Homo sapiens: one gene and its partners. The protein of the gene in region 3 interacts with the protein of the main gene of each other region in a biochemical or structural test. Each region holds a gene or a part of one and is shown on either strand. Other genes may lie near its edges.

What was found. The genes of interacting proteins can lie anywhere in the genome.
Region 1: the proteins of PTPRF (region 3) and JUP form a complex in vitro, tested with the Homo sapiens proteins (one study listed by BioGRID).
Region 2: the proteins of PTPRF (region 3) and NCAN form a complex in vitro, tested with the Homo sapiens proteins (one study listed by BioGRID).

Annotation. Positions count from the first base shown.
Region 1 is NC_000017.11:41,762,712-41,769,736, forward strand, and holds part of JUP (junction plakoglobin), read right to left. Parts: intron 6,967-7,025; coding exon 6,707-6,966; intron 6,497-6,706; coding exon 6,258-6,496; intron 4,870-6,257; coding exon 4,668-4,869; intron 2,357-4,667; coding exon 2,212-2,356; intron 2,106-2,211; coding exon 2,002-2,105; intron 611-2,001; coding exon 272-610; intron 1-271. UniProt on the Homo sapiens protein: Common junctional plaque protein. The membrane-associated plaques are architectural elements in an important strategic position to influence the arrangement and function of both the cytoskeleton and the cells within the tissue.
Region 2 is NC_000019.10:19,242,933-19,249,957, reverse strand, and holds part of NCAN (neurocan core protein precursor), read right to left. Parts: intron 4,646-7,025; coding exon 4,501-4,645; intron 1,259-4,500; coding exon 1,076-1,258; intron 193-1,075; coding exon 47-192; 3' UTR 1-46. UniProt on the Homo sapiens protein: May modulate neuronal adhesion and neurite growth during development by binding to neural cell adhesion molecules (NG-CAM and N-CAM). Chondroitin sulfate proteoglycan; binds to hyaluronic acid.
Region 3 is NC_000001.11:43,617,874-43,624,182, reverse strand, and holds the end of PTPRF (receptor-type tyrosine-protein phosphatase F isoform 1 precursor), read right to left. Parts: coding exon 6,272-6,309; intron 5,554-6,271; coding exon 5,434-5,553; intron 5,136-5,433; coding exon 4,981-5,135; intron 4,896-4,980; coding exon 4,610-4,895; intron 4,504-4,609; coding exon 4,325-4,503; intron 4,089-4,324; coding exon 3,962-4,088; intron 3,730-3,961; coding exon 3,604-3,729; intron 3,346-3,603; coding exon 3,191-3,345; intron 3,087-3,190; coding exon 2,951-3,086; intron 2,249-2,950; coding exon 2,180-2,248; 3' UTR 517-2,179; downstream 1-516. UniProt on the Homo sapiens protein: Possible cell adhesion receptor. It possesses an intrinsic protein tyrosine phosphatase activity (PTPase) and dephosphorylates EPHA2 regulating its activity.

The DNA of each region.
Region 1 (7,025 bases), on a different chromosome or scaffold from region 3:
AATTTAATGAAACCACCCAGGGTACTCATGTGCATTTTGAACTCTGAGCTCTGCCCTAGGGGCTGGTAGAGCTACAAGATAGAAATCCCAATTCTGGAATTTTAGAGCAGAGCCATTGTTGAGGTCTAAACTATTACACGAGAGAGAAATAAACTTCTGTCTTATTCGAGCCACTGTATTTAGGGCTTCTTTGCTACAGCGGCTTTGCCTATACCAATACAGCACCTAAGCCTGCTGCAGGGAGCTCCTTCCCCTCGCCTAACAGCAGTACCTTGACCAGTGGCCACTGGTTGGGCTGGTTGAGCAGCTTCACGATGGCTGGGATGCCATAGTTGAGACGCACAGAGTTCTGGGCCATCTCGGCCTCAGGGTGGCGGCTAGTGAGGTGGCGCAGAGCGCAGACGGCAGGCTCCGTGATGTCGTCCTTGTCACCAGCACGCAGGATGGCATGGATGAGAGCCTCCACACCGCTGTTCTGTGTCACCAGCGTCTTGTTCTTGCTGTTGTTGCATGTCAGGTTGGAGAGTGTGCCCGTGGCACAGGTGAGGACGTTGACGTCATCCACACTCAGCTGATTCACCAGAATCTTCAGCACACTCTCCAGGCCCTCCTGGAGGGCAAGGAAGGGACGGGGGAGTCAGGGAGCAGCCAACTCCAGGGAGCCTTCTCGAATATGTCCAAGGGGAGTGGGATGACCTAAAGGGGTCAGCCCTGCCTGTGTGTGCCCGGGAACTTTCATCCCTATGACCCGCCACACCCTGTGAGAGGGCGTTACTATCCTGTGGTGCAAGTGAGGCAATGAGGCTCAGAGAGGTTGGGGAACTTGCCCACAGACACACAGCTAGTGGCTGGATCTGAACCCAGGCTTGGCTCTAAGCCCCACATCTCTTCCCTCCAACTCATCAGCCTTTCCCTGGGGCCCTCAGACCCAGGCAGAACCCTCCTCAGGCCAAAGTACGGTGGCCAAGGGAGGCCTCGAGACCAGGAGGCAATTGTTGAGGGGGCCGCATGATTCAGTGGCCCAGCTGAGCCATGTCTACTCGCTTGTCACCTTTCTGGGCCTTCACTGCTGCCCCACCACCCTGGGGCCCTGAGCCAAATCCATTTCCAGTAAAATCACTACCTCAGACGTCTATCTCACTTCTCCCAGGGAGACACGTGGGCCTTGTGGTGGAACAGAAAAACCCCAGCTTTGGGGACGGACAGTCCTGGGTTCAAATCCCAGTTCTGCCATTTACTACCTGTGACCATGGCCATTAGCTCCCCGAGCCTCAGTGTCTTCATCTAACCCACAGGGTCCCACACTCTAACCCCAGGTTGAATGAGCTACTGTCCACAAATGCCACGCAGAGGGCCAGCACAGGGTGAGCACTTGATAAACAGCATATTGCTAGGGGAGGCCTGGGGAATGGTTGTTGGAAGGAGGCACAGGGCACTTGCCCTGGAGCTGCATTTTTCCTTAAATTGTATTTTTAGTCATGGGGGCCTGTCTCTTGGTACACTATTGCTCCAGCCCAGGGCCCAGGTCAAAACTGTTCTTTTGCTGGATGTGGTGGCTCACGCCTGTAATCCCAGCACTTTGGGAGGCCAAGGCGGGTGGATCACCTGAGGTCAGGAGTTCAAGACCAGCCTGCCCAACATGGTGAAACCCTGTCTCTAATAAAAATACAAAAATTAGCCAGACATGATGGCAGGTGCCTGTAGTCCCAACTACTCGGGAGGCTGAGGCAGGAGAATCACTTGAGCCCAGGAGGCGGAGCTTGCAGTGAGCCGAGATTGCACCACTGCACTCCAGCCTAGGTGACAGAGTGAGACTCCGTCAGAAAAAAAAAAAAAAAAAAAAAAAGAGATGAGGGTTTTCAAGGCATTTCCAGCCTCAGTCACAAGGAAGAGAGATTTAGAGCCCCCAGTCCTCCCACAGTACCTCAGGTCAGATGCCCAGACAGGAGGCTGGATGGGGCAGCTGAAGAGGTCAACCCCAGGCCCAGATACCTCCCTCACCTGCTTGGTGGCCACATCTGAGAGGTTGCGCAGGGTCCACAGGCAGTTCTGCACCAGGCGGGGGCTGTTGCTGGTCAGGTGCTTGCCCAGGGCCTGCATCCCACCTGGGGCAGGGATAGGGGTGCCATCAGCCACGGGGAGCATGGCTGACTGAGCCTGGCAGCTGGGCAGAGCTCCCACCCCAGCCGCCCTCAAGGCCATCATACTCACCAGCCTCCACAATGGCAGGCTTATTGCTGGGACACACGGATAGCACCTTGAGCACACGACTGGTGGTCCAGAGCAGCTTTTCATAACTGTAGTTACGCATGATCTGCACGAGGGCCTGGGGCCCACCATTGGCCAGGATGATCAGCTATGGGTAAAGAGGGAATGAGTGTGAGATGGACGGGGAATATGACAGGAACAAGGAAGCGCGGGACAGGAGACAGAACTGTCATTACTGAGCTTCAGCTAAAGCACGAATAGTTCGTTTTTTTCTTTTAATGTATTTTTTTCTTTTTATAAAGATGGGGGTCTCACTATGCTGCCCAGGCTGGTCTAGAACTCCTGGCCTCAAGTGATCCTCACACCTCAGCCTCCCAAAGTGCTGGGATTACAGATGTGAGCCACCACACCCAGCCAAGCACCCCAATAAGTTTTTTTGTTTTTTTTTTTGAGATAGAGTCTCGCTCTGTCACCCAGGCTGGAGTGCAGTGGCACGATCTCAGGTCACTACAACCTCCGCCTCCCGGGTTCAAGCAATTCTCATGCCTCAGCCTCCCAAGTAGCTGGGATTACAGGCGTGTGCCATCACGCCCGGCTAATTTCTGTAGTTTTTGGTAGAGACAGGGTTTCACTATGTTGGCCAGGCTGGTTTCAAACTCCTGACCTCAGGCAATTCACCCGCCTCTGCCTCCCAAAGTGCTGGGATTACAGGCGTGAACCACCACACCCAGCCCACCCCAATAGTTTCATGACTGTTATGTAAGCCAAAATTTTGAAAAAAGGATAATACCCAGTGCTGACAAGGACATGACAAAACTATATGCACACCCATTACCAGTTATGGCACTGGAAATTAGTCCAGTCCTTCTGGAAATCAATCTGGCCATTTGGGGAAAAGCCTAGAAGTGTTAAAAATTGATGAGAATTTTTTCCGCTCTTTGACAAAGGCTAGACATTCATTACAGCATTGTTTATAAAGGTGGAATAGGAGCAATCTAAATACCCTCCCTCAGAATAAAGCCTGAGGTCTCCACTTAATGAAATGCTATCTGTAGGCTGGGTATGGTGGCCCATGACTTTAATCCCAGCATTTCGGAGGCTGAAGCAGGAGGATTCCTTGAGGGTAGCCTGGGCAACAGAGCAAGACACCATCCCCACAAAAAATTTAAAACTTAGCCCGGGTGCTAATTAGCTCAGTAGTATGTTCTCATAGTCCTAGCTATCAGGAAGACTAAGATGGGAGGAATGCTTGAGCTCAGGAGTTTGAGGATGCAGTGAGCTAGGATCATGCCACTGCACTCTAGCCTGGGTAACACAGTGAGACCCTGTCTCAAAAAAGAAAGAAAAGGAAAGAATGGGAAGGAAGGAAGAAAGAGAGGAAGAGAGGGAAAGGAAAAGGAAAAGGAAAAGGAAAAAGGAAAGGGGAGGGGGAAAGGGGAAAGGAAAGGCAATCTGTCATTATTAGAGGGTGGTTTTGAGGACAATATAGCAAAAAAAAATTTTTTTTAAACATCATACAGGCCAGGCACAGTGGCTCACACCTGTAATCCTGATACTTTGGGAGGCCAAGGCAGGCAGATCACTTGAGCCCAGGAGTTTGAGACCAGCCTGGGCAACATGGAGAAATCCCATCTCTATAAAAAATTAGTTGGGGGTGGGGCACGGTGTCTCATGCCTGTAATCCCAGCATTTTATGAGGCCGAGGCAGATGGACAACCTAAGGTCAAGAGTTCGAGACCAGCCTGGCCAATGTGGTGAAACCTTGTCTCTACTAAAAATACAAAAATTAGCTGGGTGTGGTGGCGGGCACCTGTAATCCTAGCTACTTGGGAGGCTGAAGCAGGAGAATCGCTTGAACCCGGGAGGCGAAGGTTGCAGTGAGCCGAGATCGTGCCATTGCACTCCTGCCTGGGCGACAAAGTGAGACTCCATCTCAAACAAAAAAAAAAAAAGAAAGAAAAGAAAAGGAAAAAAAAAATTAGTCGGGCGTGGTAGCACACGCCTGAAGTCCCAGCTACTCTGGAGGCTGAGGTAGGAGGATCATCTGAGCCCAGGAAGTCAAGGCTGCAGTGAGCCCTGATTACACCACTGCACTCTAGCCTGTGTGACAGAGTGAGACCCTGTCTCAAAAAAAAAAAAAAAAAATCAGGCAGAAAACAGATGCAATATTGCAGATTGTTATGATGACAAGGATGTGTACACATCTGTAATCTGCCCACAGAACAGCTCTTAAGGAAGCACATCGAAATGACAATAGTGGCTATATGAGGATGAGTGATTTTTTTTTTCCCTTATCCTCAAAATAATAATTCTGGGCAATTCAGTCGCATGATGAAGCATGTATATCTGCACCTATATCTCATCTAAAAGGAGTAAGGGGGCAGCGGCCCAAGGCTGTGCAGGATAGAAGATGGCGCAAGGGTGGGCTTCAGGCCTCGGGAGAGTTGGGGAGGGCCCACCTTGCTCTCCTGGTTGCCGTAGGCCAGGAGCTGCAGGCAGTCGGTGGTGATGGCCAGGAACTTGGGGTTGTTCTTGTTGAGCAGGGGCACCATCTTTTGCAGCCCGTCGGCCAGGCGCACGGCCATCTTGGCGCCCTCCTGGTACAGGAGCAGGTTGTGCAGCGTGGTGATGGCATAGAACAGGACCGACTCCACAGGGGAGCTGGGGGGGTGGGCAGGGGTTAGTACGCTGAGGTCCCAGAGGCCTGGCATACATGTGAGCCTGGCATGGGTTCCCACCTCCCCCAGGAAGCCTCCCCGCTACTGACGCCCCTCTGGAAATATCCCTTTGCTAAAATCTCATCACTCCTTGAGCCTGCCCTGCTCTTAAGCATGAAGCAAACAGCACCTCTCTTCTCCCAACTGGGACAATGACTCCTCCTGCTTCTGAGTCCCCAGCCCTGTGCTGAGCGCACAGTAGGTCCCCTAGACACTGATCCCTACTAAGTAACCACCATGTGGAAGGCCACATATTAGAGAGGCCTTGCAAGGCGTTCAGAGGGGAGTGAAATCAGTGTCTCCCCTTCAGGGAGCTTCCAGCCTGGTATGGGAATGAGAAATAAGGCCAGGAGCAGTGGCTCACGTCTGTAAACTCAGCGCTTGGGGAGGCTGAGGCAGGTGGATCACCCTGAGGTTAGGAGTTCGAAACCAGCCTGGCCAACGTGGTGAAACCCCGTCTCTACTAAAAATACAAAATTGAGCTGGGCATGGTGGCAGACGCCTATAATCCCAGCACTTTGGGAGGCCAAGGGGGGCAGATCACCTGAGGTCAGGAGTTCAAGACTAGCCTGGCCAACATGGTGAAACCCCATTTTTACTAAAAATACAAAAATTAGCCAGGCATGGTCGTGGGTGCCTGTAATCCCTGCTACTTGGGAGGCTGAGGCAGGAGAATCTCTTGAACCCGGGAGGCAGAGGTTGCAGTAAGCCGAGACTGTGCCATTGCACTCCAGCCTGGGCAACAGGAGGAAAACTCCATCTCAAAACAAAAAAAAATAGCTAGGTATGGTGGCAGATGCTTGTAATCCCAGCTACTCAGGAGACTGAGGCAGGAGAATCATTCGAACCCAGGAGGTGGAGGCTGCAGTGAGCTGAGATCACGCCACTGCACTCCAGCTTGGGTGACAGAGCAAGGCCTCATCTCAAAAAAAAAAAAAGAAATGAGGCCAATCCACATTTTGTAGGGGGCCAGGAAACAGAAAGTTTGCAAGGGACTTTGCATTTGCTGTTCCCTCTGCCTGGGACACTCTTCCCTTCCTCTGCACTAGCCAAACTCCACTCATCTGTCAATCCCCTGCCATTAAGCGATTCCACCTTTGAGCAATCTCAATGCTCTTCTGCCATAGCCTGTGTCGTATCCTGATCATTAACCTGCTGTTTACATGCCTGTGTTCCCTGCTGGGCTGTGAGCCACCGAGCACCCGGATGGGGTGTGCTTCTGCCTGGCACATAGTAGGTGCTCACTGGATATTTATGGAAGCTCAGGGAAGGGAGGGGAGAGGCCCAAGTGAGAGGGGGTCCTGGGCTCATGCAGTGAGCAGGGTTGGGTACCTGAGCATGCGGACCAGAGCAGGGATGCCACCCGACTTGAAGATGGCGAGCAGCCCCTCCCGGTGGTGGGAGAGGTTGTGCAGGATGCTGGTGGTGCAGCGGGCTGTGTCCAGGTCGCTGGTATTCTGCATGGTACGCACGACAGCGGCCACCAGCTGGGGCGAGCCCATCAGGGCCCGCCGCGACGCCTCCTTCTTCGACAGCTGGTTCACAATCATGGCCGCCTTGGTCACCACCACCTGGAGGGCAAAGGCAGGGGCGGGGACGTGAGCACTAAGGAGAGGCCGGGATACCCTTCCACAGAGCTGAGGAGGGCCCCAGTCAGACTCATCACACACGGGAGAGTCTGGGTCATAACCTCCCTCCACCCCTACAATGTCCCTCCCCTGAGGACATCTGCTCTCTCCCCTCCCTGCCCAGCCCCCACCCTAGCAGGGACCCTCACAGACCGGGTCCTCGTCGTTGAGCAGTTTGGTGAGCTCGGGCAGGGCGCGAGTGGCCAGCTCGGCATCGTCCTGGTAGTTGATGAGATGCACAATGGCCGACTTGAGCAGCTGGGACGGCTCGGCCAGTCGCTGCAGGTTGGTGGCCTGCCCCTCCACCTGGGTGGCCAGCAGAAGCGAGCTGTCCTCGCCTGACACACCAGGGCACATGGCCTCCCGCACCCGTTTGGCCCTGGCTGTTGTGGACATCTGGTACTCCAGATCACCTGGGGGCCATGGGGACAGGGACTGAGTGCAGGCAGTGGGCTGGGCAGACACTGGGGAG
Region 2 (7,025 bases), on a different chromosome or scaffold from region 3:
CAGAGGAGGCATGGGAAAGGTGTTGTGCTTTCTTTTTTCTGGTTCTTCAGCAGAAATTCCCTTCGTCCTTCTCCCAGTCCTCCGTTGGGTGTTTCTTGTGTTTTCTGCGCTCCTTGCGGGATTTGTGGTGGTGATGCTGGTGGTGGTGTTGGTGGTGGTGGTGGTGTCGCCGCATCCGATGTGAACGTCTGGCTGCAGGGAAGTGAGGGAGGACAGGGAAGGGACAAAAGGTGGTGAGAGGCAGGTGGCCTGATGCAGCGGGTGTCCTTGGGAGAGAAAGTAGAGGAAAGAGGCCAGACGCGAGGGCTCATCCCTGTCATCCCAGCACTTTGGGAGGCCAAAGTGGGAGGATCTCTTGAAGCCAGGAGTTTGAGACCAGCTTGGGCAACATAGCGAGAACCTATCTCTACAAAAATAAAAAAATTAGCCAGGCGTGGCGGCACATGCTTGTAGTCCCAGCTATTTGGGAGGCTGAGTTTGGAGGATCCCTTGAGACTGGGAGGATGAGGCTATAGTGAGCTGTGATTGAGCCTCGCACTCCAGCCTGGGCAACAGAGTGAGGCTCTGTTTCAAAAAAAACAAAACCAGGCCGGATGTGGTGGCTCACGCCTGTAATCCCAGCACTTTGGGAGGCTGAGGTGAGCTGATCACATGAACTCAGGAGTTCGAGATCAGCCTGGCCAACATAGTGAAACCCTGTCTCTACTAAAAATACAAAAATTAGCCGGGCATGGCAGTGGACACCTGTGATCCCAGCTACTCAGGAGGCTGAGACACAAGGATCGCTTGAACCCGGGAGGTTGCAGTGAGCCGAGATTGTGCCACTGCACTCCAGCCTGGGCAACAGAGCACAACTCCATCTCTCTCTCATACACATACACACACACACACACACACACACACACACACACAAATGAAGGAAACATCAGACAGGCTGGTAAGTTCTCACTTATCTGCAAGGCTGTATTATCAGGCAGACATTAAGCCAGATCAATGTGTGGAGAAATAGGATGTCTTACTTGGAAACTAGAAATACCAAAAACCTATGTTGAGATCTCTGGGAGAAGCTACTTACGTTTGGTGCAGACAATTTGGGGCCTGTCCCACTTGCCATTGCTCCGGCATCGAATGGTGGCCACATGGTGCTGGGCAAATCCTTCATTGCACTGGTACCTTACAGTGGCATGGACATTGTACTTGGCCTTGCGGGCACCGATGAGTGAGGCATTCTCCACTGCCGGAGGGGGACCACAGAGCACTGGGACAGAGGAATCTCTAGTGAGAGAGGTGCTCACATCTGGGGCTAAACTAGTTGTTGTTGTTGTTGTTGTTTGAGACAGAGTTTCGCTCTGTCACCCAGACTGGAGTGCAGTGGCGCGCTCTTGCCTCACTGCAACCTCCGCCTCTCTGGTTCAAGCGATTCTCCTGCCTCAGCCTCCCAAGTAGCTGGGATTACAGGCACCTGCCTGTAATCTACACCTGGCTAATTTTTGTATTTTTTTGTTCCTTTTTTGAGACAGGGTCTCACTCTGTCTCCCAGACTGGAGTGCAGTGGCGTGATCTCGGCTCACTGCAACCCCTGCCTCCCAGACTCAAGTGATTCTCCTGCCTCAACCTCCCGAGGAGCTGGGATTACAGACATGCACCACCATGGCTGGCTAATTTTTGTATTTATAGTAGAGACCGGGTTTCGTCATATTGGCCAGGCGGGTCTTGAACTCCTGACCTCAGATGAGCTGCCCACCTTGTCCTCCCAAAGTGCTGGGATTAAAGGCATGAGCCACCGTGCCTGGCTCTTATTGTTGTTTTTAAAAGAGCGTCTTCCTTTGTCGCTCAGGCTGGAGTGCAGTGGCACAATCACAACTCACTGCAGCCTCAACCTCCCAGGCTCAAGGGATCTTCCCACCTCAGCCTCTCAAGTAGCTGAGACTACAGGTGCGCACCACCGAGCCTAGCTAATTTTTTGATTTTTTGTAAAGACAGGGTCCCACTATGTTGCCCGGGCTAGTTTTGAACTCATGGGCTCAAGCTGAGTTTTATTGGGAATGACACCCCCCTCAGCTCGTCAACAGGTCCCTGCCTCTGCCCAGTTCTTATCTCACAGGGCTGGAAGTGACTGTGTCTGTCTGTCTCTTCTACCCAAATCAGCAGCTCCTTAGGGACAGCAACCTCCCGGACACACCTCACTTTCTAATTCTTACACCAAACATAGGGCACAATGGGAATGAAGGAGACAGACGGCAATAATAATTATCTGAGCAAATAAAGGCCGGGTGCGGCAGCTCAGGCCTGTAATGCCAGCACTTTGGGAGGCTGAGGTGGAAGGATTGCTTCAGTCCGGGAGTTTGAGACCAGCCTGGGCAACACAGCAAGACCCTGTCTCTACAAAAAAATTTTAAAATAAGGGCCGGGTGCGGTGGCTCACACCTGTAATTCCAGCACTTTGGGAGGCCGAGGCAGGCGGATCACAAGGTCAGGAGATCGAGACCATCCTGGCTAACACGGTGAAACATCGTCTCTACTAAAAATACAAAAAATTAGCTGGGTGTGGCAGCGTGCGCCTGTAGTCCCAGCTGCTGAGGAGGCCAAGGCAGGAGAATGGCGTGAACCCGGGAGGCGGAGCTTGTAGTGAGCCGAGATTGCGCCACTGCACTCCAGCCTGGGCGACAGAGCAAGACGCCGTCTCAAAATAAATAAATAAATAAATAAGCCAGGCATGGTGGTGTGCACCCGTAGTCCAGCTACTGGTAAGACTGAGGTAGGAGTATCACTTGAGCCCTGGAGTTCAAGTGATCTGCAGTGAGCCGTGATAATGCCACTGTACTCCAGCCTGGGCAACATTGCAAGACCCTGTTTCAAAAATAAATAAATAAATACATGAATAAATGGGGGGGAGGATGTGAAAATTGACAAAGAAATGGAAACAAAAATAAACCAAAGTATAAAATAAAGGTGGATGTACAAATGTATACAAATGATTTCTTTCATATATAAAGATCTCTTAAAAATCAGTAAGATCAACAAGTCAATAGAAAACTGGGCAAAAGAGATGAATTGACAGTTCACAGGGAAAGAAATATATGCCAACAGGCTGTCAACATATAAACAGTTGGTTAGGCCAGACACGGTGGCTCACACCTGTAACCCCAGAACTTTGGGAGGCTGAGGCAGGCAGACTACTTAAGGTCAGAAGTTTGAGACCAGCCTGGTCAACATGGTGAAACCCCGTCTCCACTAAAAATACAAAAACAAAAAAAAAATTAGCCAGGTGTGGTGTGTGCCTGTAATCCCAGCTACTCGGGAGGCTGAGGCAGGAGAATCGCTTGAACCTCAGAGGCGGAGGTTGCAGTGAGCCGAGACTGCAATACTGCACTCCAGCTTGGATGACAGAGTGAGACTCCATCTCAAACAAACAAACAAAAAACAACTGGTTATTCTCATCCTTAAAGGCATGCAAACTAAGATAACAATGAGATACTATTTTTCCCCACTTAGATGAACAAAGAACAAAAGTTTAAGAATGTGCAGAGTTAGCAAGGGTGGGAGGAAACAAGCACTCTCATACGCTGGTGGAAAGTGAGAACTGGCTGCACTGACATTTACCAACTTAAAAAGATGAAGGCGAGGTGCAGTGGCTCATGCTTGTAATCCCTGCCCTTTGGGAGGCCGAGGTGGGTGGATCACCTGAGGTCAGGAGTTCGAGACCAGCCTGGCCAACATGGTGAAACCCCGTCTCTACTAATAATATAAAAACCAGCTGGGCGTGGTGGCATACGCCTGTAATCCCAGCTACTCAGGAGGCTGAGGCAGGAGAATCACTTGAACATGGGAGGCAGAGGTTGAAGTGAGCCAAGAGCATGCCTTTGCACTCCAGCCTGGACAACAAGAGCGAAACTGTCTCCAAAAACATAAATAAGTAAAAACAAAATAAGAATAAATTAAAAAAATAAAATATAATCCCACCCACCTTGGCCTCCCAAAGTGTTGGGATTACAGGCATGAGCCACCCCGAGCGGCCTATTTCCAGAACTTTTTCATCACAACACACCAAAATTCTATACCCATTAAGCACTAGTGACTCCCCCTTCTCCCAAACCCTAGCCCCTGGCAAATACTAATCTACTTCTTGTCTCTAAATTTGTGTACTCTGAATGCTTCATGAAAAAAAAAAATGAATCAAGGCTGGGCACAATGGCTTATGCATATAATCCCAGCACTTCGAGAGGCTGAGACAGGCAGATCGCTTGAGCCCAGGAGTTCGGGACCAGCCTGGGCAACATGGCAAGACCCCATCTCTACAAAAAATACAAAAATTAGCTGGGCATGTTGGTGCATGCCTATAGTCCCACCTACTCGGGAAGCTGAGGCAGGAGGATGGCTTGAACCCAGGCGGTGGAGGCTGTGATGAGCCATGATTATGCCACTGCACTCCAGCCTGGGCAACAGAGAACCAGTGAGCAAAAGTGACAGAGAGGAAAAGAAGCAGGGGGCACAGCATACCTGTGCCCTTCTTGCAGACATAGGGTAGGTTGTAGTTGCAGGGGACATCGTTCCAGCGCCCGCTTTCATGCGCCACCATCACCACACAGTCCTCGCCACCCGCGAAGAAATTGTCCGGCTGGTTCTCTCGCCAGTTCTCAAATTGCTGCAGGAATAGGGGGCAGGGAGTTGTTCAGGGGACCTCTGTTCCAGCCCAGGTTCTGGCAATTCCTGCTGTGGGACTCCCCTGGCCAGACCCCTCAAACTCACAGGGATTCAGTGTTCCCATCTCTACAATGGCCACTGTCCTGCCCATCCTGACGGGGGCCACCACTGTAATCCAATACACCATTCCTCTGGTTTGGAGGCTGCAGCATTCTCCTCCCTGGTCCTCCTGCCTCCCTGGGTGCCCGGCCGCACCCAGTTCATTTTCAACATGAATCAGTGTTAGATAAGTGGTGGGACAAGGCCAGGCCTGGTGGCTCATGCCTGTAATCCCAGCACTCTGGGAGGCCGAGGTGGGCGGATCACCTGAGGTCAGGAGTTCAAGACCAGCCTGGTCAATATGGTGAAACCCCATCACCACTAAAAATACAAAAAATTAGCCAGGCATGGTAGTGGGAGCCTGTAATCCCAGCAGGAGAATTGTTTGAACCCGGGAGGCAGAGGTTGCAGTGAGCCGAGATTGCGCTATTGTACTCCAGCCTGGGTGACAAGACCGAGACTCTGCCTCAAAAAAAAAAAAAAAAAGGAAAAGAAAAAGAAAAAAGATACATGGTGGGACAAATGGTGATCTCAGCCCGAAGTCCAGGAGGACTTCCCTGAGGAGGCAATGTGAGAGTTAAAGAATCAAAGATAGTAAGGATTCAAGGCCGGGCTCAGTGGCTCATGCCTGTAATCCCAGCACTTTGAGAGGCCAAGGGGGTCAGATCACTTGAGGTCAGGAGTTTGGGACCACCTTGGACAACAAGGTGAAACCCTGTCTCTCATAAAAATACAAAAATTAGCCGGGCATGATGGTGCGCGCCTGTAGTCCCAAGATACTCGGGATGCTGAAGCAGGAGAATCCCTTGAGCCTGGGAGGCAGAGGTTGCAGTGAGCTGGGTTGCATCACTGAACTCCAGCCCGGGTGATGGAGTGAGATTCTATCTCAAAAAAAAAAAAAAAAAGATAGTAAGGGTTCAGACAGGGAACAGCATTCCTAGCAAAGGGAACCACCAGTGTGAAGGCTCAGAGGCAGGACTGAACTTGTTCTGCTTGAGGAACAGACAAAGCCCAGTGGGGCTGGAGCTGCGTGATGGGGCTGGGGTGTGCTCAGAGAGTAGAGAGGGACCAGATCTTGCATCAGAGAAAAGGAAGTGAATTTTTAAAAATTGTGGCAAAATATATATAGCGCAAAATATATATAGCACATAATTCCTAATTTTAACCATTTTTGTTTTGTTTTGTTTTGTTTTGTTTGAGACAGAGCCCAGGCTGGAGTGTAGTGGTGCGATCTCGCTCACTGCTACCTCCGCCTCCCAGGTCCCGGTTCAAGCAATTCTCCTGCCCCAGCCTCCTGAGTAGCTGGGATTACAGGCATGCGCCACCATGCCCAGCTAATTTTTGTATTTTCAGTAGAGATGGGGTTTCACCATGTTGGCCAGGCTGGTCTTGAACTCCTGACCTCGCGATCCACCCACCTTGGCCTCCCAAAGTGCTGGGATTACAGGCGTGAGCCACCGCACCTGGCCAATTTTAACCATTTTTACGTGTGCAGTTTATTGTTATTTTTATTTTGTTGAGACAGAGTCTCTATTATCCAGGCTGGATTGCAGTGGTGCTACCTTGGCTCGCTGCAACCTCCGCCTCCCGGGTTCAAGAGGCGGTGTGCAGTTTAATGCACTAATTACATTCACAATGTTGCATAACCATCATTGTTATTTCCAGAACTTTTTCTTTTTCTTTTTTTTTTTTTTTTTTTGAGATGGAGTCTCTCTCTGTCGCCCAGGCTGGAGTGCAGTGGCATGATCTTGGCTCACTGCAACCTCCGCCTCCCAGGTTCAAGCGATTCTCCTGCCCCAACCTCCTGAGTAGCTGGGATTACACGTGCACGCCACCACGCCTGGCTAATTTTTGTATTTTTAGTAGACACAGGGTTTTACCATATTGGTCAGGCTGGTCTTGAACTCCTGACCTTGTGATCCATCCACCTCAGCCTCCCAAAGTGTTGGGATTACAGGCCTGAGCCACCCCGCACAGCCTATTTCCAGAACTTTTTCATCACAACACACCAAAATTCTGTACTCATTGAGCACTAGTGACTCCCCCTTCTCCCGACCCCAGCCCCTGGCAAACACTAATCTACTTCCTGTCTCTAAATTTGCCTACTCTGAATGCTTCATGAAAAAAAAAAATCATACAACAGCTGGCCTTCTATGCCTGGCTCATTCCACATTTTGTTTATTATTTTATTTTATTTTATTTTTGAGCCGGAGTCTCGCTCTGTCTCAATTTTTGAATTTTTTGTAGAGATGGGGTTTCGCCATGTTGCCCAGGCTGGTCTC
Region 3 (6,309 bases):
TAGGACTTGTCTGCTCACCAGTGGAGCAGCTGCACAGCTCAGTGGGTGATGCAGCTGTGTGTCCAGGGGCCAGATGGACACACTGTTTTTTGTGTCCATTATCCACATTGCAATAATTACAGGAGATCTCACTAACCAATTTCCATACATTCAGTCTCTACTGCCACAGGGCCATCCCTCTCCTCCAAGGTAGTGGGAGAGGGGCAGTCCCAATGCCCCGATAGTGCAACCCACAGAATCTTAAAGGGAAAGAGAGGCAAAGGGTATGCTCCCCGGCCTAGGGTGCTCTTCACATGCACTGGTGGCTCTGGCCTGGCTGGCTCTTGGTGGCCTGGTTTTCAGGGTTTATAACCACTCCTTTCTGAAAGTGGGTAGCCATGCCAGGAGCCTACACTGGCACAAATACTTAGGGTACCCTCCCCGTCTCCTCAGGAGCAGGGAATCTCCAGAACCCATCCTAGCTACTGATTTGGCCCAGACTCTTTGGTTCCAGAAACAGCTGAGACAGAGTCCTGGTTTGTAAGAAATCTGATTATTCAAATTTATTACCATCAAGAATTATGCAATGATGCTGTAGTTTTTCTTAACAAATAGAAAACAGACTGTGTACAACAGTGAACTCTACAGCACTAGCATCCACAAGGTAAAAATGAATGTTTCATCATCCAACATTACCAACCCTGGAATGTTGATCTTGACTTAGCCTAGCTAGGTTTGGGGACGTCGGCACCACGTCCCTCAGCTAAAACAGCTATGCACCCTTCCCCGCCCCCACTTACCTATCTAGATAGCGCTGCCCAGAGGAAGAGGCGCTCTCCCTGCCCCTCAGCAAGCTGGGATAATAAGGACTGATTAGAGTACCATTGATAGAAGTCCAGTAGTCTTGCCACATTGGTTTATGAGGGCATCTTGGAGTGGAAAAGAGCGATTATCGGGGGCTTTGAAAACAGCTGCAAACCAGGGAGGAAAATCATCTGGCCCCTGCTCTGAGGACAGACATGTGCTACCAGGCCCACTGGCCTGGACCTGAAAGGCCAGCCACGCCCCCGCTTGGCCCTGAGGTGCATGGGGTGTGGCACACACCCTAACCTGTGCTATTCACCTTGGCCACACAGCCAGACCCCACAGCCTACAAACACCACACCATACTGCAATGCTGGGGACCAAAGCCAGGCTCTGTGGGCCCAGGTCAGCCAGCAGCTCCCTCGGGAACCCCAGGCACACGGAGTTGCTTCCCCTCTTGAGGGTTTGAAGCAGAAGCCAAGGGCTGACTCTTTTTTTTTTTCTTGGGTTTTTTGTTTTTTTTGTTTTTTATTTTTGTGGTTTTTTGTTTTTGTTTTAACCTTTGCAAACACGATGGTGATGAGGAATGCCTTGCCAGGCTCTCCCAGACACATCTGTGGTTCTGGGCTGTGAATGTTAAACACACACTGGGATAGACGACCAGGGATGAGTGTTCCCTATCTTCTCCCCGCCCACCACTGTCAATGTGGCCTAAAAAAAGGCTTTAAAGGGAAAACAAAACTTAAAAAAACATTGAGTTTCCCTGCATTTAGCTGAAACAGGATCTCGTCTGAAGGGCTGGAGGAGCAGCCGGATCAGCACTGCCTCCCGGCCCACGGCCGAGCCTCCGCTCAGGCTGGCAGCCCCAGCTCTGCACGAGGAAGGCAATGTTCTGTCCTTCAGCAGAAGTCATACAAAATAAGGATCCAAAGTGAACTCAAGAAAAAAAAAAACAAAACAAAATAAACCCCAACCCCTACAGTGGCCCATTCTGCAGATACGGATTCGCGAAAGGAAAAATCAGAGGGAAGAGGCTAAAATCCCTCAGTCTACCCCACTTAATGTATTAAAAAGGAGGCTTTGCCCCAACCCCACCCCATGAGAAGAAGCATGAGAAATGCGGGAGCGCAACAGAGAGCTTGAAGCGGGCTCCAGGTGGGTCTGGTGGACAGAAGGGCCACAGTGCCTGCCTGCTGGGCCATCCACTTGCCCAGGGATGTTCTAGGCTCTCTGATTGGTGTGGCAACGTTCCTGAAACGCTGTGATCCCCGTGGGCTGTGCTCTGCCAGTGACAGCATCTGCGTAGGAGGGCTGGACGATGGTCGGTATGGCTCAGAGGAGCTGGGTCCCCTCCGGAGCCCCACGGCGGGGGTGGCGGAGGAGAGGGGAGCGGTAGTTACGTTGCATAGTGGTCAAAGCTGCCGAGGTACTCCAGGGCCGCACGGTAGCACAGCTGATACTGGTCCTGCCAGGATAGGGGGCTGGTCAGTGTGGGTCGCGCCAGTGGACACCCCCACTACACAGCTGACACTCACACTGCAGCCATGGAGTTAGCCTCTGCTGGCCAAGAGCAGGTGCTGGACCCTGGCAGCTACATCAGGCAGTGTGCGGGGGAGCCTGAAAGAGCCTCTGAAGGCTCATCTCTCTCCTGTCATTCTCTCAGGCCCCCACATCTACCTGCCTTCCATCTGCCATCCCAATCATGTTTCTCTGCTCCTGACTGGGCACCCCATAAGGATTGCTCTGTGCAACCTTGCCCAGAGCCAGGCACACCACTGGGGCTCAGCAGAGAGCTGCCGAATGAAAGAACACATCTTACTCATCAATCCCCTGAGCCCCCAGGCAGCACAGGCAATGTTGCAGCATTTTTGTTTTGTTTTGTTTTGTTTTCAGCAACAGGGTCTTGCTCTGCCACCCAGGCTGGAGTGCCGTGGTATAATCATAGCTCACTGCAGCCTCGAACTTCTGACCTCAAGTGATTCTCCCACATCAACCTCCCAAGTAGGTAGGACCATAAGCACACACCACCATGCCTATCGCAGGCCACGTGAAAGGTTGGCAGCATGAATGAATGCACATGCCTGTGGGCATCAAACTGTTGCTAAAGCCTAGGGTTCCCAGCAGCGCTGCTGCCAAGGCCCTGGCCCTGCAGCCTGGTCTGCGTTACCTCTGTCTGCACCATGGCAGGACGCTGTGTACGCAGGGTCTTCACGGTCTGAAACATGTCGACCACGCCCTCGTAGCGCATGCGCTCCAGGACGATGCTCAGAGTGATGAACACCCCGGTGCGGCCCACGCCAGCACTGCTCAGAAACACAGTTGGGTCAGGAGTCCTGCTTGCCTCATGCAGTGGGTCTGCCAGGCCTTCAGGCCCACCCACCCCAGCCCTCCAGGGGGCCAGTCCCACCTGCAGTGCACCGTGATAGGCCCATCCTGTCCAAACTGCTCCTTGGTCTTATGCACCTGCCCGATGAAGTCAATGAATCCCTCGCCTGTCTTGGGCACGCCCTGCTCTGGCCAGTCTGTGAACTGGAACTGCCGGATTGTCCTTGACTGCCCATCCTGGGAAAGGTGGGTGGGGTACATGATTAGAATTCGTGCCTTAGGCAGCCACCCCTCTGGACTAGACCAGGGTAGTACCATGATACAGGCATGCATCTGTGTCACTGCACCCGAGGCCACAGGGGGAGATGTGCTCACACCCTAATACCCACCCACCGCCTCAGATTTCTGAAGCTTGAGCTAAGGTACCATGCAGGCAGCCATCCACCCAGCGTGTGGACAGGCAGCGTTATGGACACACTCAATGCACTCACTCACCCGGGCATCCGTGACCTTGAACTCACGCAGGATATACTGGGGCATGTTGTACTCAGCCATCGGGTCAACAACAAAGTACTGGTAGCGAGCAGAGCGCTCTGCTGGCCAGTACTGGTGGCATTTCTCCTGTGGACAGAGGGTCGGGCCCCCATAATCAGGTGAGAAGGAATAGGGGAGGGGTGCCAGGCTTCACAGGATTCTGGGACAGATGCCTCAGGTAGTAATAACGGGCGCCTGAGGCCATGCTGACAAGCAGCTGGGGTGTCAAAGGAGACAGTAACATAGGCGGCAGCTCCCCCAAGGGTGGCTGGTGTTCTCCCAGGTATGACAGGGGCCCTGGGGGAAAGGGTGGGCTCACCCTGCCCATCTCCCGAAGCTTGGTCAGCATGACGATGATGGTGGAATTGTGCTCCCATAGCATGCGCCAGAAGTCCTCGGTGCTCTCTGCCAGAGGCCCCTGTGTAGCTATGTAGGCCTTCTGCTGTCTGGGGTGGACATAAGACTGGACATGCTGGAGGTGCTGCTGCCCCTAGAGTCTCCCCTTAGGCTGCCTAGCCCCTTGGGGCCCTGCTCAGATCACCCCTCCTCCAGGAAGTCCTCACTGCTCTACCCAGCCCTCTCTGGTCTTCTAGGCTGGCCCTACTCTGCTGCCCACCCCCACCAGCCAGGCACAGGCCTAGGCCCCTGTAGGGCATGGTGGGGCAGTGACATGCATGCTGACCTATAACCATCCAGGAAGCTGGCATTGATGTAGTCAGAGCCCTCCACACCACGGATGGGCTGCAGACACACACGGGTCAATTCGTAGGGCATGATGTTCACCAGCCGGTTCTTGAACTTGTTGCAGGGCAGGTTGGCGCTGATGAAGCGGGACGTGTGGGCCTTGGAGCTGGCCAGCAACTATTGAGAGGCAGGGATTGGTCAGGCCAGGCTTCCTGTGGGGGTGGGGGTCATCTGCATGACCCAGTCTAGGCCCTGGAGCCAAGCAGGCCCACCCGAGCCCCACCTTGAACTCGAGCTCCATGGCGGTCACACTCTCCCCTGGAGGCACTTGGCCCAGCTTCTGGATGTGGGCATACAGGTTGCGGGCAGGCACCTCTGTGTGGCCGCACGTGGCAGCCTCCAGCAGCGCCTCATGGATGAACACGTACTGGTCCTCCGTCTGCACCATGTAGTTCCTCTGTGATCGCATGCAGGTCACGTGGCCATAGATGTCCACCGTCTTCTCGTGCTTCATCCGCTCCAACATGGCATCAATCACGATGAAGCAGCCGGTGCGGCCCACGCCCGCGCTGCAGGACACGGGCTCAGCTTGAGGCACAGGCGCCCCCACCTCCCACCCCACCCACCCCTCTGGGTGGCACTGTACCCTCTCACCTGCAGTGCACCACCATGGGCCCTGCGTCTAGGGGGTTGCAGGCCTTGACCCGTCGTAGGAAGGCCAGGATGGGAGTTGGGTACTCAGGAACTCCATGGTCTGGCCAGGCCATGAACTGAAACTGACGCAGCTCGCGCTTCTCACTGGAGCCACTCTGGGGGACAAAGTGGGGACATACTGGCGACTAGGAGCCTACCTGCCATAGACTCAGGACTGAATGACCTGATGCTGAGGCCATACCCGCCACTTCCCCATGGGACTCAGAAGCCACACAGAGTAGCCTGAAGCTCCTAGCACTGTTCCCATAACATGGATCATCACATCACTCACACACCTGAGCCTCCGACCCTCCAACACCCAGGCTCCAGCTTCCCCCCGACCCAGCACACCACACCCAGGCCACTGTCCTTACAGTGTCTGGGTAAGAGATATGCACTGGGGAAAGGCTATACCTTGTGGAGTGCGAAGGTGCGCACAGTGTATGTGGCCAGCTCCACTGTGTCCAACAGGGTCACCTGAATAAGGCCACAGGTCTCGGTGCCACGGGCTGGCCAGTACTGATCACATTTTACCTGCAGGAGGATGAGCAGGGCAGGCTGAAGGAAGCCCACAGGCTCAGACGGGCAGAAGCAGGGTGGAGGCTGGTCAACTCCCTGGCTGTAGCCTTTCTGGCTACAAAGCCCCCCAGCCCTGAGCTCTCAGATCCATTGCCCCCTGTCCTCCACAAGCCACATCAGGTCCTCAAGCTATGTCACCGCCCTGCCCTAGCTAGTGGAATAAGGGTCATAATTGAAAATTATTTATTCAACGCCAGATCGCACCAGGCACATTTTCTGCCAAATTTACCCATAACGTTTATGTGCCATTTTCAAGCTCTGTAAATTTTACGTTCCAGTCAATGCTTTGCAGTCCAAAAACAGATAACAGCAGCTCTTTCCACTAATTAACTTAGGAGATGTGTTAATGCCCCAGGAACACTCCAGCATCTGGGGAACACATGAATACCCCGGGAACACGCCAGCAACTGGGGAACACATTAACATTCTCCGAAAATGACAGCATTTGGTGAAACATATTAACATCTTAAGGAACCCACTAGCATGTGGGGAACATGCTGTATCCCAGAAACACCCAGTATTTGGGGAGCATAATACCCCCAGTAACAATAGCATCTGGGGATCACTTGAGCGACTTCCTCCACAGAAGAAAGCGGCACAGAAGAAGGTGCCCTGTATCACCTTGTGGCTGGGCATTTCCCACCCGCCTCCTGGCAGGGCCCTGCAGCCTCACCCGGGACTTCTCCTCCAGCCGTGTCATCATGACCACAG